Linked DNA regions of Homo sapiens: regions 1 and 2 are each linked to region 3. Evidence: fine-mapped expression QTL. A gene starts in region 3. Each other region holds a variant in brackets. All regions are shown on one strand. Distances are between the middles of the regions. Region 1 has its middle 21 kb from the start of ST3GAL5-AS1. Region 2 overlaps ST3GAL5 (ST3 beta-galactoside alpha-2,3-sialyltransferase 5). Region 3 holds the start of ST3GAL5 (ST3 beta-galactoside alpha-2,3-sialyltransferase 5).

Region 1 (5,336 bases), 22 kb before region 3:
TTGGCCAGGCTGGTCTCAAACTCCTGACCTCAGGTGATCCGCCCGCCTCAGCCTCCCAAAGTGCTGGGATTACAGGCATGAACCACCGTGCCCAGCCAGTATCTAGAGTTTTTATTGGGGTTTCATTACATAGGCATGATTGAGTGACTCGGCCACATGATCAAACTTGATCTCCAGCTTCCTACCCCTCTAGGCTCAAATTCCAACCCTCTAATCACATATGTAGTTGGTCTTTCCAGCCTGGCCAGCCTCCATGGGCCCGCCATTAGTCACCTTGTTAGCATAAACTCAGGAGTAATCCCAGGGGCTCACCACGGATAACAAATATTCTTCTACCACTCAGAAAATTCCAAGGGTTTAGAAACTCTGTCCCATGAATCCAAAAACAAAGACCAGACAAACTATGACACAACAATATCTGTAGCACGGCTGTCACAAGGCAGAAACACTTCAGGATCTGACTAAAGGCTGGCACTGAGAAGGCGGGGGTTTTCCTTGGTCCCAGCCTGCTATGTTCTTAGCGACTGATTGGAGTGTTGTGTAGAGGCTTCTGTGGCTACATCCAGGACCAGCTGGAGGGAGTAATATGGTTAACCAGTCATGACAGCCCTTGCTAAGAAGAGGATAAGAAGGGGAAAGCAGGAGTATGCATGTTGGATACTTGCTAATCCTGGGCTAAGGGATTTTTTTCTTTTTTCTCTTTTTTTAAAGAGAACAACCGCAGAGTAATGAAAATGATAATGCTGTTTGCAAACAAAAGTTTGCTCTCATGAAAAGAATAAAAACCTGGGACTCCAATTCACTATGCCTAAAGGAAAAAATTAAGCTGAAAGCTGACTCATTCAAGAAACTGCCTTTCCTTTTGTTCCTAAGCAGATAGCTACAGAAAAAAAAAGAGCATGGTGATGTATGCCCAGTTACTTGGGAGGCTGAGGTGTGAGGATCACTTCAGCCCACTGCAGTCCACTCTGGGCAACAGAGCAAGACCCTGTCTCAAAAAAAAGGCCGGGCACGGTGGCTCACGCCTGTAATCCCAGCACTTTGGGAGGCCGAGGTGGGTGGATCACGAGGTCAGGAGATCGAGACCATCCTGGCTAACACGGTGAAAACCCATTTCTACTAAAAATACAAAAAATTAGCTGGGCGTGGTGGTCGGCGCCTGTGGTCCCAGCTACTTGGGAGGCTGAGGCAGGAGAATGGTGTGAACCCAGGAGGTGAAGCTTGCAGTGAGCCGAGATGGTGCCACTGCACTCCAGCCTGGGCGACAGAGCGGGACTCTGTCTCAAAAAAAAGAAACAAAAAATCACATTTACCCCAAATGATTGTCTTAATGAATGTGGGCCTCTTCCAGGGACTATCATGTCAACCCACCCATGTAGAGAGCTGATATTCAGCTCATACGTACTGGTTATCAGACCAATTGTTAAATGATTTGAAACACTTTCAGATCGTTGGTAAATCATTGCTGCTCCCCTCTCCCAGAGTGCCCGCCTATCATTCTGGCTTTCCTGGCCCCTCCCCTGGGACCACGATGGCTATATATAGTCATTTGCAGAGTGCAGTGCAAAATGAAAATGCAGAGCTCTTGTTCAAAAATGATTAGGCTGGGCATGGTGGCATATGCCTATAGTCTCAGCTATTCCAAACACTGAGGCAGGAGGATTGCTTGAGCCCAAGAGTTCGAGGCTGTAGTGCACTATGATCACACAGAGCCACCGCACTTCAGCCTGGGCAACATAGTGAGACTACATTTAAAAATATATATATTAATGCCCATAAAGCCAGCCCTGCCCACGTCCCTCTCCAGACCTCTTCACAATCTAATCGAAGGCTAGCTTCATGGCCAACATCCTTCTGATTAATAGTAGTTGGCAGAACACTTCAGCTGTTCACCTCCATTACCCCTGCAAATGCAGGAGGAGCATGTAATGTGACCAAGAAATCAATGTTTTCAGACACTGACCTTTGGGGGTTGTTACTGCAGCATAACTCAGTGCATCCTACTAACAGTCACCAACGCCCTTTAAGTTCCTAAATATTTGATTATCATTTTGCCCACATGGTTTTGTCTTTGCATCACAAACAGGACAACTGAGAGTTGTTTTTTGGCAGGAACATGGTTTGACTGTTACTGGAAACTCTTTCTCAGGATTACACAAGGCAAAACAGGATTCCCAAACCCTATTTTTTTTTTTTTTTTTTTTTTTTTTGAGACAGAGTCTCTCTCGGTCGCCCAGGCTGGAGTGCAGTGGATTGATCTCCGCTCACTGCAACCTCCACCTCCTGGGTTCAAGAGATTCTCCTGCCTCAGCCTCCTGAGTAGCTGGGACTACAGGCGCATGCCACCACACCCGGCTAATTTTTTGTATTTTTAGTAGAGACTGGGCTTCAC[C/T]GTGTTAGCCAGGATGGTCTCGATCTCCTGACCTCGTGATCTATCTGCCTCAGCCTCCCAAAATGCTGGGATTACAGGCGTGAGCAACCACGTCTGGCCTCCAAACCCTATTTTCAACCAGTGTCCTTTGCCAATACAATGCAGCAGATGCTTTCTACCAATATTCAGATAAAATAGTAAAATGTGTATTTATAAATGTTTTAATATGTCACAAGATTAAAAGACTTATGTCTTCATTGGATGCTTTTCTTTTTGTTTTATTTTATTTTTATTTATTTATTTATTTATTTTGAGATGGAATCTCGCTCTTATTGCCCAGGCTGGAGTACAGTGGCACAATCTCGGCTCACTGCAACCTCCACCTCCCAGGTTCAAGCAATTCTCCTGCCTCAGCCTCCCGAGTAGCTGGGATTAGAGACATGCACAGCTAATTTTTGTATTTTTAGTAGAGACAGGGTTTCACCATGTTGGCCAGTTTGGTCTCAAACTCCTGACCTCATGATCCACCCGCCTTGGCCTCCCAAAGTGCTGGGATTACAGACGTGAGCCACCGAGCCCGGCCGTTATTGTATTTTTATTATTTGAGATAGTCTCACTCTCTCACCCAGGCTGGAGTACAGTGGCATGATCTTGACCCACTGCAGCCTCTACCTCCCAGGCTTAAGCAATCCTCCCACCTCAGCCTCCAGAATAGCTGGGGCTACAGGCGTGCACCATCGTGCCCAGCTAATTTTGTTTATTTTTTATAGAGATGGGGTCTCACTGTGTTACCCAGGCTGGTCTCAAACTCCTGGGCTCTGGCGATCCTTGTGCCTGGGCCTGCCAAGGTGCTAGGATTACAAGTGCGAGCCACCGCCTGGCCTTGGATGCTTTTCTTAAGTGAGTGCCTACAACTCTCACTTCTGATCTGATGTGGCTGCCCGAGGAGGAGGAAGGGGAAGAAAGCAGTAGTTTTAGCATTTCTTGATTTGTGCAGCTGATCTCCTTCCTAGAGGAAAATTGGGTGAGCAGAGAAAAGAACAAAAGGCTGAGGAGGGTTGGCGTCCAAGGGGAGCTCCCAGCCCCTCTCCACCCCTCCCTCTCCTACTCTATCCCACAGAGGAAGGGAATGGAGTTGGGGTCTGAATCGTCAGTGTTGATTAAGGAGCAGGGAATGTAGGATTAAAAAAATAATGTAGTGAGGAGTTCCAGGCAAGGGAGGGTGGGGCAGGGGATTGTTAGGGCAGTGAAACTACTCTGTATGATACTACAGTGGTGGATCCATGTCATCATACATGTGTCAGAACCTATGGAATGTGCAATGCTAACAGTGAATGCTAATGTAAACCATGGACTTCAATTAACAATATCATTATATCAAGATTGGCTCATCAGTTGTAACTAATGTACTATACTATGTTAATAACGGGCAACTTGGTGGTGGTGAGGGAGTATGTGGGAGCTCTGTGTATTTTCTGCTCAATTTTTCTACAAACCTAACACTGATCCCAAAACCGAAGTCTATTAGTTTAAAAATAATAAAATAGACATATATTGGGTGTCTAGCTATAGATTTCAGTTTTATTATAACTGAAACAACATTCTTGCTTCTCACTGCCTGTTATGACTCTTTTTCCACCAGGCCTCTCCTAAGCAACAGGATGGAAAGATAAAGGTAATATTGACTGTGAGCTAAGAAGAAAGACCAAAAGAGGCCACTTGGCCTGCTGTGACTTTGGACTCAAGGCCACTGTGTACAGTTGCCCAGGTGGTGCACTGCACAAGGACACCACATCAAAGAGGATACATTCTCCTTATAGTCATTAGAGCTTTGTATATTGATTATGCAAATTCCAATAAGCGCTTTTTTCTAATTTGCTCAAAGGCTAGTGGTGACCCTGTCTAGGCCCTAAGCCTTCTGAAGGGTGGGAGACCTCCAAGGGGCCCAGCCTTGCTTACCTAGAGGCAGTTTTGAGTTTGAGGGTGAAACCCCTGCACATTTTCCACTTTCCAGAACCTTGATGTGTGGCAGGTTATGACAAGACCTGTGCATGGGAAGCCCAGAAAGGTACATAAATGGAAAACTGTGAAACCTTGTCACCCAGGTGCAGAAAAGAAGAGATTGGCAAGAACTTGGGCTGGCTCAGACACAAGTTCAGGCATCAGAACCCACACATGGTTCTGGTTTCTAGAAGAACAGGCATGGTTTCTAGAAGGGCAGATTAATGTCGTGTATGAGCGTGTCAGTGGGTTCAGGATGCTGATGCCTGGGGGTAGAAACGGTGGAGGGCCTGCAGCTCTTCTCCTCCATCCAAACTGCCAAGACTGCTGAACTTTGGGCGTGCCCACATGAGACACAAGGGTGAGCTGCATCTGCCCTTCCGCCCCCATCTTTACACTGCTGATTCACTGCTTTGAGAACAAGCCCACATAAGACCAAGTATGCCCTGAACCTACGGGGGCCTGTCTTCCCATCTGCACATGGCTCTGGGTGTGGCCTTGCATGGGGGAGGCCTGGGGATTTGGCTGTCGTGGGACGTGCAGGTGGACAACTCTCTATGTAAACCTCCGTGAGTCCACTACCATGGCTTACAGTGATGTTTTATGTTAAAGGATTTTATGGGGAGATAACAACAATAACATTTTGGAAACAGGAAAGCAAACAAATGAGGAATATTTGACTGAAAGCCAAGTCTCGAGCTTGAATTGCGGAAGGCCAGAACCACTGTTTGACACCACAGCCTCCTCAAACCACAGACTTGGGGCTGGGTGCCGTGGCTCAAACCTGTAATCCCAGCACTTTGGGAGGCTGAGACGGGTGGATCACCTGAGGTCAGGAGTTCGAGACCAGCCTGGCCAACATGGTGAAACCCCACCTGTACTAAAAATACAAAAAAAATAGCCAGGTGTGGTAGTGGGTGCCTATAATCCCAGCTACTTGGGAGGCTGAGGCAGAAGAATTGCT
Region 2 (5,000 bases), 42 kb after region 3:
TTTGTATAGGTGGGGTCTCACCATGTTGCCCAGGCTAGCCTCGAACTCCTGGGCTCAAGCAACCCTCTCACCTTGGCCTCCCAAAGTGCTGAGATTATAGGTGTGACCCGCCATGCCCGCCTTTCCTCTGAGTTTTGTTGCATTCACGCAGCTCCTGGCTGAGGCAAAACATTAAAATGCATATGGAAATGCAGGCTGGGAAAATGCTTTGAAACCAATGCAATTTCTGTGTTAAGGGGACATTCCCTGATTCTTTCAGGTAATTTGCATTCTAGACTGTGACATTCTGTATCTCAACTGATAAATAAGCCTGTTTGTCATCCTGCTAGATGAGAACCTGATATATGAAACCTTTTTTTTAATCGTGGTTAAAAAAAACATAAAATTTACCATCATAATTATTTTTAAATGTACCATTTGGCAGCATTAAGTATATTTAAACTCTTGTGAAACAAATTTCTAGAATGTTTTCATCTTGCAAAACCGAAACGCTGTACCTATTAAACAACTCCCCTTTTCTCCCTCTCTTCAACCCTGGTAACCATGTTTTTATGAATTTGACTACTTTAGATACCTCATATAAGTCAGGTCATACAGTATTTGTCTCTTTGTGACTGGCTTCACTTAGCATAATGTCCTCAAAGTTTAACTATGTTGTAGCATGTATCAGAATTTTATGAAACATGAAGTCTTAGACACCCCGAAGTACATTTTCACCCCAAATGTATTTGAACAGTGTTAGGCTGGGGGTGGGAGGCGGGAGTCCTTCTTGCTTTGCCTGTGCAATGAAATGAATACCCTGCTGTGTTTATCTCCTTGTCATGTGATTCTCCCAGGTTGTTTCTTCAAGTTTCTGAGCCAAACTTAACTCTAAAAAGCAAATATTCTGTGTTAAAAGACAGTAATCAACACGGGAGCTACATCAGACATCATAGGACAAATTGTCATCTAGAAGAGTATATTTTTAATGCAGGAGAGTTTTTAAAACCCAGATTGGTGTGATTTCATTCCAGAGAGCTCAGAAATATGCTCAGCAAGTCTTGCAGAAGGAATGTCGTCCCAAGTTTGCCAAGACATCAATGGCGCTGTTATTTGAGCACAGGTATAGCGTGGACTTACTCCCTTTTGTGCAGAAGGCCCCCAAAGACAGTGAAGCTGAGTCCAAGTACGATCCTCCTTTTGGGTTCCGGAAGTTCTCCAGTAAAGTCCAGACCCTCTTGGAACTCTTGCCAGAGCACGACCTCCCTGAACACTTGAAAGCCAAGACCTGTCGGCGCTGTGTGGTTATTGGAAGCGGAGGAATACTGCACGGATTAGAACTGGGCCACACCCTGAACCAGTTCGATGTTGTGATAAGGTACATTGGTTTTTTTTGTTTGTTTGTTTACTTATTTTTATTGTTTTTATTTTATTTTATTTTTTGAGGCAGGGTCTCACTCCTGTTGTCCAGGCTGGAGTGCAGTGGTGTGATCTCAGCTCACTGCAGCCTCAACTTCCCAGGCTCAGGAGATCCTCCCACCACAGCCTCCCCAGTAGCTGGGACCCCAGGCACACACCACGCGTGGCTAATTTTTTATATTTTTAGTAGAGATGGGGTTTCTCCGAATTGCCCAGACTGGGGTACATCGCTTTTAAAACCAACCTTTCTCCTCTAGAACTCAGTGCACTGCTCTTGGTCAGTGTGGCTCCAGGAACAGTGAGGGACACAGGAAGCTCTTCACAGTCCCTGCCCACAAGGGACTTAACGTTTGAGAAGTTGAAACAAAAACACAAAATGGTTGGATGCTCCAAACTGTCATACTGACCCTAAGTTGGAGGAGCATGCTGCTGGCTACAGTAAGTGGCAGAACCTTGTCAGAGGAAGTGAGATTTGGAAGGTGGGTAGATTCAAGTAAAACAGCAAAGGACCACAACTCCCAGACAGGGGCAAGAAGAGGACACAGCAAGAGACT[T/G]GAGTCAATGAGGGGCCTGGCTTCTGGAGAAGGGGCTTGGGGCCAGTGAGTCCTGGAAGGCAGTGCTGGCTGGGACATGGAAGGCACACAGAGAAGTTCAGACTCACCATGATAGCCAATAGGCAGTCATCCTAGATTCTTTTTTGGTTTCACTGTTTAAAAATTGTTTTCTGGCCAGGCGCAGTGGCTCATGCCTATAATCCCAGCACTTTGGGAGGCCAAGGCAGGAGGATCGCTTGAGCTCAGGAGTTCAAGACCAGCCTGGGCAACATAGAGACAGCTTGTCTCTACAGAAAATCAAAAAGTCAGCCAGGCATGGTGGACTAGATTTTCCCTTCTGATTCCTTTTTTGAAATTCTGGCAAGAACTAACATCTGAGCACAATGGAAAATTTCTGAGGATATTTTACTGGCACCCAGAGAAAGTCCCAAATGTAATATGCTTAGATTGAGTAAAAATATTAGGGCTAGATGAAATTGCTTGACATTCAGGGATTAGATACAAGTGTTCGCTCAAGTACTAAAGGCTGCATTCCTCGAAATCCTAGAAAGACAGAGCTGGGAGGGGAGATGAGGCTGCAAACCATGCACTCATTCTTAGTCATAAGAAGACGTGGAGGACATGACATGGATACTGCCTGGTGTACAGAGATGGTTGATGGCCTGCTTTGTCAGTGTGTCTTTGTCCTTTTTATTTAAATAGGTTAAACAGTGCACCAGTTGAGGGATATTCAGAACATGTTGGAAATAAAACTACTATAAGGATGACTTATCCAGAGGGCGCACCACTGTCTGACCTTGAATATTATTCCAATGACTTATTTGTTGCTGTTTTATTTAAGAGTGTTGATTTCAACTGGCTTCAAGCAATGGTAAAAAAGGAAACCCTGGTAAGCACTAATACTTCTATTAAATCTGCCTTAGTAAAAAGTGAAGGAGTCTTACTTAGTTGTAATTATAGCCTTTTATTTTTAAACACGCAGAGCGGAATGCATACTTATGTGTTGTCTTTCAAATGATGATCACTCTCTTTGTAGAAACCCCTCAGCAATTCTTTTTTTTGGGGATGGAGTCTCATTCTGTTGTCCAGGCTAGAGGGCTGGAGTGCAGTGGTGCAGTCTTGGCTCTCTGCAGCCTCCGCATCCCAGGTTCAAGCAATTCTCCTGCCTCAGCCTCCCGAGTAGCTAGGATTACAGGCGCCTGCCACCACGCCCAGTTAATTTTTGTATTTTTAATAGAGATGGGGTTTCACCATGTTGGCCAGGCTGGTCTCAAACTCCTGACCTCAGGAGATCCACCCGCCTCAGCCTCCAAAAGTGCTGGGATTACAAACATGAGCCACTGCACCTGGCCCTCTTCCAGTGGTTCTTGCACATGGGCAGGTTGGAGAATTCCTGGTAGAGACAGTGGTGAGGGTGTTTATAATTTAAACTGAACAAATACTAGGAGCTAGTGGGAGATTTGTTGGGTGCGGTCTCAGCACCGGCACTTCCTCAGTGCTTTTGATTTCATGGGTGAAATTTCACACTCCTGAGAGACAAATGAGACCCTGCCCCCCAGTTGAAATCGGAAAGTACCATACAGTGGGAGTATTTTTCCTTTTGGTGGCGGGAATGGAGTGAGATGGTTATAAAGAGGCCCTGCTGCAGTTGTGTCAATCCAGGAGTGGGTGCTTTCCTCCTATGTCTGTGTACAGCTGTACACTCTGCATGGATGGGCCAGACCTAATTAAGAGTCGCATGAAAATGGTGATCATTGCTTAATGGGAATATCCAGATTGTGACCAAAATTGCTGTTACTGAGGTTGTTCACCCACCTTGTTCTCCAGACATGAACTTGCATAGCTTTTGGCTAGTTCCAGAAATTAGACTTACTTAGATGGATATAAGCCTTTTTGAGGGTATTCAAAAGCATATAAAAATCAAGGAATACTCTAAAGAGCTCCAAAAATGCTTTGGTCAGTGGTTCCCTTGTTGGAATAAATTCATGGCATTCCAGAAGGGCAGCTATGGAGGAGATGGCCCTCACTTGGTCATATTCCTTTTGTCTTTATTGGTCACATTACTTTATAGTCTCACCCATTATATTCAAATACATTTCAGAGGTCAGCTGTCGAGGAGTGTATGCACATGTATAGACATATGCACAAACTAGCTGTCTGTGAAACTAATGGGACGTATTCAACTTTTCACGTAAACTCCATGTGATGACAAATTTGTATTTCCAAAGCTGATTCTATATCAGTCATCATGGTCTTCTGGATTTTCTATTGGGCAGAAGTTCTAGTTGGAAGATGAAGCATATATGAAACGACTTCATGGGACTAGGAAATAGAGTAAGTGAGAGAGGATGCGAGGTGAGGGCAGTTTCAGCACTTAATAGCCTTAAATTGGACCTATTCACTTGGGCTTCCCTAGACAAAATGATGGTGTTAGCACCATTGAGGAATGTCTACCTCAAACAAATACAAGCTGGTTCTGCAATTCATCTCTTTGTCCAGTGCCGCCTGTGTGAAGTGGCTATTTCAGAGTTACTTTTTTGAGTTGGAGTGCCGGATTTGCGTAGCTTTTGCAATCTATAGGAGTAGATTGCTTCAGAAGGCAGTGCACAGGGCCACATGGGGTCACACCCACAGCCTTGGTCTGATGAGTGGGAATGCTTTCTCCCCTCCCCTAGAAGGATGACTAACAACTGCTTGCTTGCTTTCCTTAGCCATTCTGGGTACGACTCTTCTTTTGGAAGCAGGTGGCAGAAAAAATCCCACTGCAGCCAAAACATTTCAGGATTTTGAATCCAGTTATCATCAAAGAGACTGCCTTTGACATCCTTCAGTACTCAGAGCCTCAGTCAAGGTTCTGGGGCCGAGATAAGGTATTTTTGTTGCTACTCAAAGTTAATCATTCCCTGTTTGAGGGGCGATGTGTACAAATTTCACTTTGGCTCAACTGTATACCCAGAAGCATCTCCAGTGGAGAAACCCAGCCTGTGATTAGATGCTCCATGTGTGTTTACCACTCTGCACTTGGCTGCAGGGCTCCTCATTGTTTAA
Region 3 (5,306 bases):
AGCTACTTGGGAGGCTGAGGTAGGAGGATTGCTTGAGCCCAGGAGGTGGAGGTTGCAGTGAGCCAAGATCGTGCCACTGCACTCCAGCTTGGATGACAGAGTGAATCTGTCTCTAAAAAAGAAAAAAAAAAAAACGCTGCTGTCCTGGATTTGTAAGTAGCCTGAGTGACTCTTTGCTAGTCACTATTCAGAAGCTTCTCTGAGATCAGCCACTGACTTGGAGAGATAACAGTAAGGCTTTGAGATCTAGAGGCTGATCTTAGTCTGCTGTTTGGAGATCTCTGCCTTAATCCAGAATAATAGCTGAGGATGTCTCTGTGGCTGATGAAGAAAAGGAAGTTTGCAGGCCTGCTTGTCTTGCTGCCCAAGTGGGTCAACCTAATGTGAGTGGAGTGAATGAGGTAGTAAGGGCTTAACAGATGTCTTGTGATTCTGGGACAGGAGGCAGCTTCAAGTTCCTTTTCTTCCTCACCCCCACCTTACACCCATCCTTGGAAGCTGGGATACTGCTGACTCTCATGGCAGCCATAACGCTATCAGCGCCTGGCTTTGCCGACAAGGGGAATCTGGAAGAGAAGGGGAAGGACAGGGGAGACAAAGAGAGGTAAAGAGTGTTGCATCAAGCACATGTGTCAGAAGTGTTCAAACCAGAGCGCCTCCATTTTGAGTGAGGGCTAGAAAAATGAGGCTGGGACTTGCTAGGCTGCATTTCCTGAAAGCTAGGCATTCCTAGCCTCTAGGTGTTTATGGTTAAGAGAACAAATTAATAATGCTTACTAAACAGACCCAGACTTGAGAGAGTCCAGATATCCCGATATCTGGAGAACAAAGGCATTCCTAATTTTGCTTTAAAAATAATAATATTGATTATTGCAAAATATAGTAATTAGGGAAAATTAATCCTTTATCACAAACCCTTGTAGCAGAAGACATCTGCCCATATATACAAGCATTACAAGCATTGTACCTTAGTTGGATATGTCCCTCCTCTTATTTTCAGGAATGCCCTGCTGGAGTGCAGTGGCGATCTCGGCTCACTGTAGCCTCTGCCTCCCGGGTTCAAGCGATTCTCCTGCCTCAGCCCCGTGAGTAGCTGAGACAACAGGCTTGCGCCACCACGCCCGGCCAATATTTGTATTTCTAGTAGAGACGGGGTTTTGCCATGTTGGCCAGCTGGTCTTGAACTCCTGACATCAGGTGATCTGTCCGTCTCAGCCTCCCAAAGTGCTGGGATTACGCGTGAGCCACTGTGCCCAGCCACCACTTTACTTTCTTAATAAACTTGCTTTTACTTTGCACTGTGGACTTACTCTGAATTGTTTCTTGCGTGAGATCGAAGAACCCTCTCTTGGGGTCTAGATCGGGACCCCTTTCCTGTAACACATGGGCCTTGGGCTGATCTCCAAGATTAAGAGGGCAAGATACTCAGCTGCAAGGGTCAGCTGTCGCTGACCCCAGCAGCTGCTCTGCCTTGGCCAACTTACCGGATTTAAATCGCCCAGTGACAGCTTTTCCTCCAGTATTTTCAAAATGCTCCCAATATCCTCACGTTAGAACAATCCAGAAATAGTCTTATGGTAAAACTCTTTTGGGAAATGTGAAAGTAGAGTCCTCCCACCTTTTCCTTTGCAACGCTTTTGCCCCAACCTCGATCGCCCAGGCAGCACATTTTTTCCGGCACCCCCACCAAGGGAAGAACAGAGACATCTCCAAACCAGCTGCCCTGCGCCAAGCTGTTACAAAATAGAGCCACAAGTCTCCCGGTTTATGCAAACATATTTGGCTCGGTGTCTAGGATCTTCTTTTTCAAACTCAGAAGGAGATCACAGGCACACGGCCGCGGTGCTGTGTACGCCCCTCTGAAAGGAAGTTCTGCAAGTCGACCGACTTCACTGGCTTCACTGAAGTCCGGTCCGAAACCACCGGAAAGTTGCAGGCGCACAGTATACGTTCAGCTGTGTCCAAGAAATAACCTATCAATCACTGCCTTAAGCTTTGTTTCCTTCCTGAATTTTCTTATTTTCACGAATATTTATGCTTTCACAAACTGTATGTCATTTCCTCTCCAGAACCAAGGGGGGCTCGCCCCAGCCTGGCCCCCGCCCCGGGTGCGTCCCTGCAGGGGGCGCCCTGCTCTGGCAATGCCCACCGCACCGCAGGGCTGACTGGCCGCGCGCCCGGGGGCGGGGGCCGCCGCGGAGGCATCGTGCTCTCCGATTGGCCGTCCGCGTCCTCGTGACGTCAGACCCCGCCCACGCGCCCCTCCTCCGCATCTGAGCGGGGGAGCGGCGGCCCCCAGCTGAATGGGCGCGAGAGCGGCGCTGGGGGCGGGTGGGGGCGCGGGGTACCGGGCTGGCGGCCGGCCGGCGCCCCCTCATTAGTATGCGGACGAAGGCGGCGGGCTGCGCGGAGCGGCGTCCCCTGCAGCCGCGGACCGAGGCAGCGGCGGCACCTGCCGGCCGAGGTACGTGGCGCAGCCCCCTCCTCGGCGTCGCGGGGGCCCGCGGGCTGGGGGCTGCGGCGGCGACTTGTCTCTTCCCGGGCCGGCTGGGCGCGGCGTTTCCGCCTCGAACCCCGCGGGCAGCGCCCAGGGCACGACACCCTCAGGCGAGCCCGGCTGGGGCGCGGGCGGAGGGTCGTGGTCCCGGGCCGTGTGGACCGGGCGGGGGGTCCCACGCAGGTGTGTACGCGGTAGAGGGTGGGGCGGACCGCCGGGTGTCGGGTCCCGCCGCAGTGGCCCTTTCCCCGCCGCTTTCCGCTGCAGCTCGGGATTTAATTCATTGCTGGAAGCTTCGGAGTTAGCAGAGCCGAGTTAACTCGTTTTCCTGGGATGGGCTTAGGGAACCCCCTGCAAGGTTACTAGCAGCTCCTGAAACCTCTCTCTGCATCCATCGGGGAGGCGTGATGTGGGGCCGCTGGTAGAAATTTGCCGGTGACCTTCCCTGCACCCTCTCTGCAGCCAGCCTTGCGGAGAAGACAGGTTTTGGCGACCTTTTGATTTCTTCTGAATTGTAAGCCGTGGCTTGACGCGGGTGTGCATTCATTGTACGCCTTGCGTGTGTAAGTAACGCAGGGTTTTCCGAGAGCATCCCCGAGGAGCCCTGCCCTTGCCTCACACCCGCTTGGTGACCTTGGCAGACACTGATCCCCCTGTGGGGCTCGGGCTCATGGTCTCTCCTGAGAAGCTTACCCTGCCGATGGCCGAGGTCCCTTCCAGGCCCCGGGTTTTTCTAATCATAAAAAAATACGTTTACGAGGGTAGAGGATCCTGCAGAATCTCTAGCTGACTCGGAAGACGAATTTTATATCCTCATGTCTTAAGTCATGCATGCGGCTTTTGCTTAATTAGGCATCGTTCATTTGAAGGGGAAAATGGTTTTATGTGCTGCGCTTCATCTGGCACCAGTGGTTGCCTGCTCCTCGTGGCAGGGCCGTGCTGGGTGTCACAGAGAGGAAGGAGACTCATCTCCTGCCCTCTGGTGTTTAGCTGCCCTCCCCCGGGCTTATGGCTGCTAATCCTTTTCCACGGAAGGATACAGCTGCTGAAACTGTGGAAGAGGAATCCATTTCTGCTGCATGAAGGGGCACAGACTTGAATACAGTCAGGACAGGTTGTGGTTTCACTTGTGTAATCCTGAGAGCTTGACAGCTTCGAGGAGTGTCTAACATTGCTAGTAACAGAGCCTAGAAGCACCTGAATTCCAGCTGTCACTTGGAGAAGGAGAGATTCATACGAACTGCGAGAGCATATAACCAGCATGTCTTGAGTCTTTTACCCATGTGCCTGTTATATGGATGCTGCTGTTTTTGTAAGATGAAATGACCCTTGGATATTCTGGGTTATGATCAGCATTTCTTCGTCTAGGCGAGAAAAGAAACAGGTGAGATAGGAAGGCATGAAGGGGCTCATGGAAGAGAGAGGGCTGACAGGCAGAAATTTTGAGAGCTCACATTTACGACTATTTGGACAGTTCTTATAATTTTGGCATAAATTGTAAATTGTTGCATGTTATCAAAATAGATTGGTGATGAACGTTAAGGATATATCCGTGGCAGAATAAGAACACACTCTTTGTTCTTTGGTTTGCTCCTCTAGTTCTTCCCTGCTTGCCTTGTGGGACTATTTGCAGCAATGAGGGGAATTTATCTAGCAGGTTGGCCTCGGGAGGCAATGAATGAAAAGAGGTTGGTGAGTCCTCTGTGGGAGTCCATTCCAGGTCCTGGAGGGCTGAGGTGGGTGTCTTGGAGCCAGCAGTTTCTGGGAGAAGGGATAAAGCTCACCTTCCACACCCTCCTGGCTCCTGAGGAGCGATTTAATCCGCACTGCCTGTGGACACGATGGAGGACTGAGATCACTCCCGAAGGGCATGCTCCGTGGTTTTAGTCTGCTGGGAAGCTCTGGCAGAAGTAAAACAACTGGGAATATACACATGTTAATGATGCTCCAAGCTGCCTAACTGCTGAGGAAGGAAAAGCAAGGGCTGGATCAGTGTGGGTGGCATAAGTTAGCAAAGGCATCCAAAGTGGGGTGAATCACAGGCCTGGTGTGGGAGGAAACCATAAATATGACGGTGACACGCAGGCTCGCCCGGGAGACAGCCAGCTTAAGCACACGTGCAGAGGAGAAGCAAGTGAAATGCGTAAGGGAGCAGGAGAAAAATCAGCTTTGAGGCTTCAAGGACACTACCAGGCTTGTCTTACCTGGACACCAGACAGACAAAACTTTTTTTTCCTCTTTTTTTTTTAAGTATAGCATAGATACTAGGAAAGTAGACATACCATAAGTGTCCTGCTCAATGAATTTTCCAGACTGAACATGCCCATGCACTCAGCACTTAGATCAACAAACAGAACTGGCCGGGACCCTGGGAGCTCCCCTTGTGTTGTACTCCAGTCGCGGCCTCCCCCAGGATCAGCCTTGAACTCCTGGAGTCAAGCAATCCTCCTGCCTTAGCCTCCTCAGTAGCTGAGACTACGGGCACACACCACCAGACCCAGCTAATTTGTTTTATTTTATTTTGTAGAGACGGCTCCCACTGTGTTGTCCAGGCTGGTCTCTGGCAACTCCTAGCCTCAAACTATTCTCCCACATTGCCCTCCCAAAGCGCTGAGATTACAGGCGTGAGCAATTGCGCCTGGCTGGCTAGTGTATGCCTTCTTTCCTTAAGCATTGAGTTTCTGAGAATCACTCATGATGCTGCCCATGGTTGAAGCATGTTCACTCTCATTGGTGATAGGGGCCATTGGGTGAATATACCACATAGTCACGCATTGTTAGTGGACATTTGGGCAGTTTGCAGCATTTG

Evidence for each region. PIP is the estimated chance that this variant, and not a neighbour inherited with it, causes the effect.
Region 1: its variant is the best candidate, but not a certain one, in a credible set for the expression of ST3GAL5 in blood mononuclear cells (TOPMed, PIP 0.63).
Region 2: its variant is the best candidate, but not a certain one, in a credible set for the expression of ST3GAL5 in whole blood (INTERVAL, PIP 0.86).

What each region holds. Positions count from the first base shown.
Region 1 is chr2:85,907,496-85,912,831 of GRCh38, reverse strand. No RefSeq gene overlaps it. Among named protein-coding and RNA genes, the nearest start is that of ST3GAL5-AS1, 21 kb to the right of the region's middle. The variant C/T (reference allele first, on the strand shown) is at 2,393.
Region 2 is chr2:85,844,218-85,849,217 of GRCh38, reverse strand. It overlaps ST3GAL5 (ST3 beta-galactoside alpha-2,3-sialyltransferase 5), which reads left to right. Exons shown (of 7, transcript NM_003896.4): 4 at 1,014-1,357; 5 at 2,655-2,841; 6 at 4,664-4,822. Among named protein-coding and RNA genes, the nearest start is that of ST3GAL5, 42 kb to the left of the region's middle. RefSeq lists an enhancer at 1,654-1,713. The variant T/G (reference allele first, on the strand shown) is at 1,953.
Region 3 is chr2:85,885,982-85,891,287 of GRCh38, reverse strand. ST3GAL5 (ST3 beta-galactoside alpha-2,3-sialyltransferase 5) reads left to right here and starts at 2,298. Exons shown (of 7, transcript NM_003896.4): 1 at 2,298-2,464. The coding sequence starts at 2,383. It overlaps ST3GAL5-AS1 (ST3GAL5 antisense RNA 1), which reads right to left and starts at 2,008. Exons shown (of 3, transcript NR_110569.1): 1 at 1,485-2,008; 2 at 83-112. RefSeq lists silencers at 1,897-2,516, 2,557-2,676 and enhancers at 2,847-2,926, 2,618-3,118, 3,457-3,586, 3,597-3,716.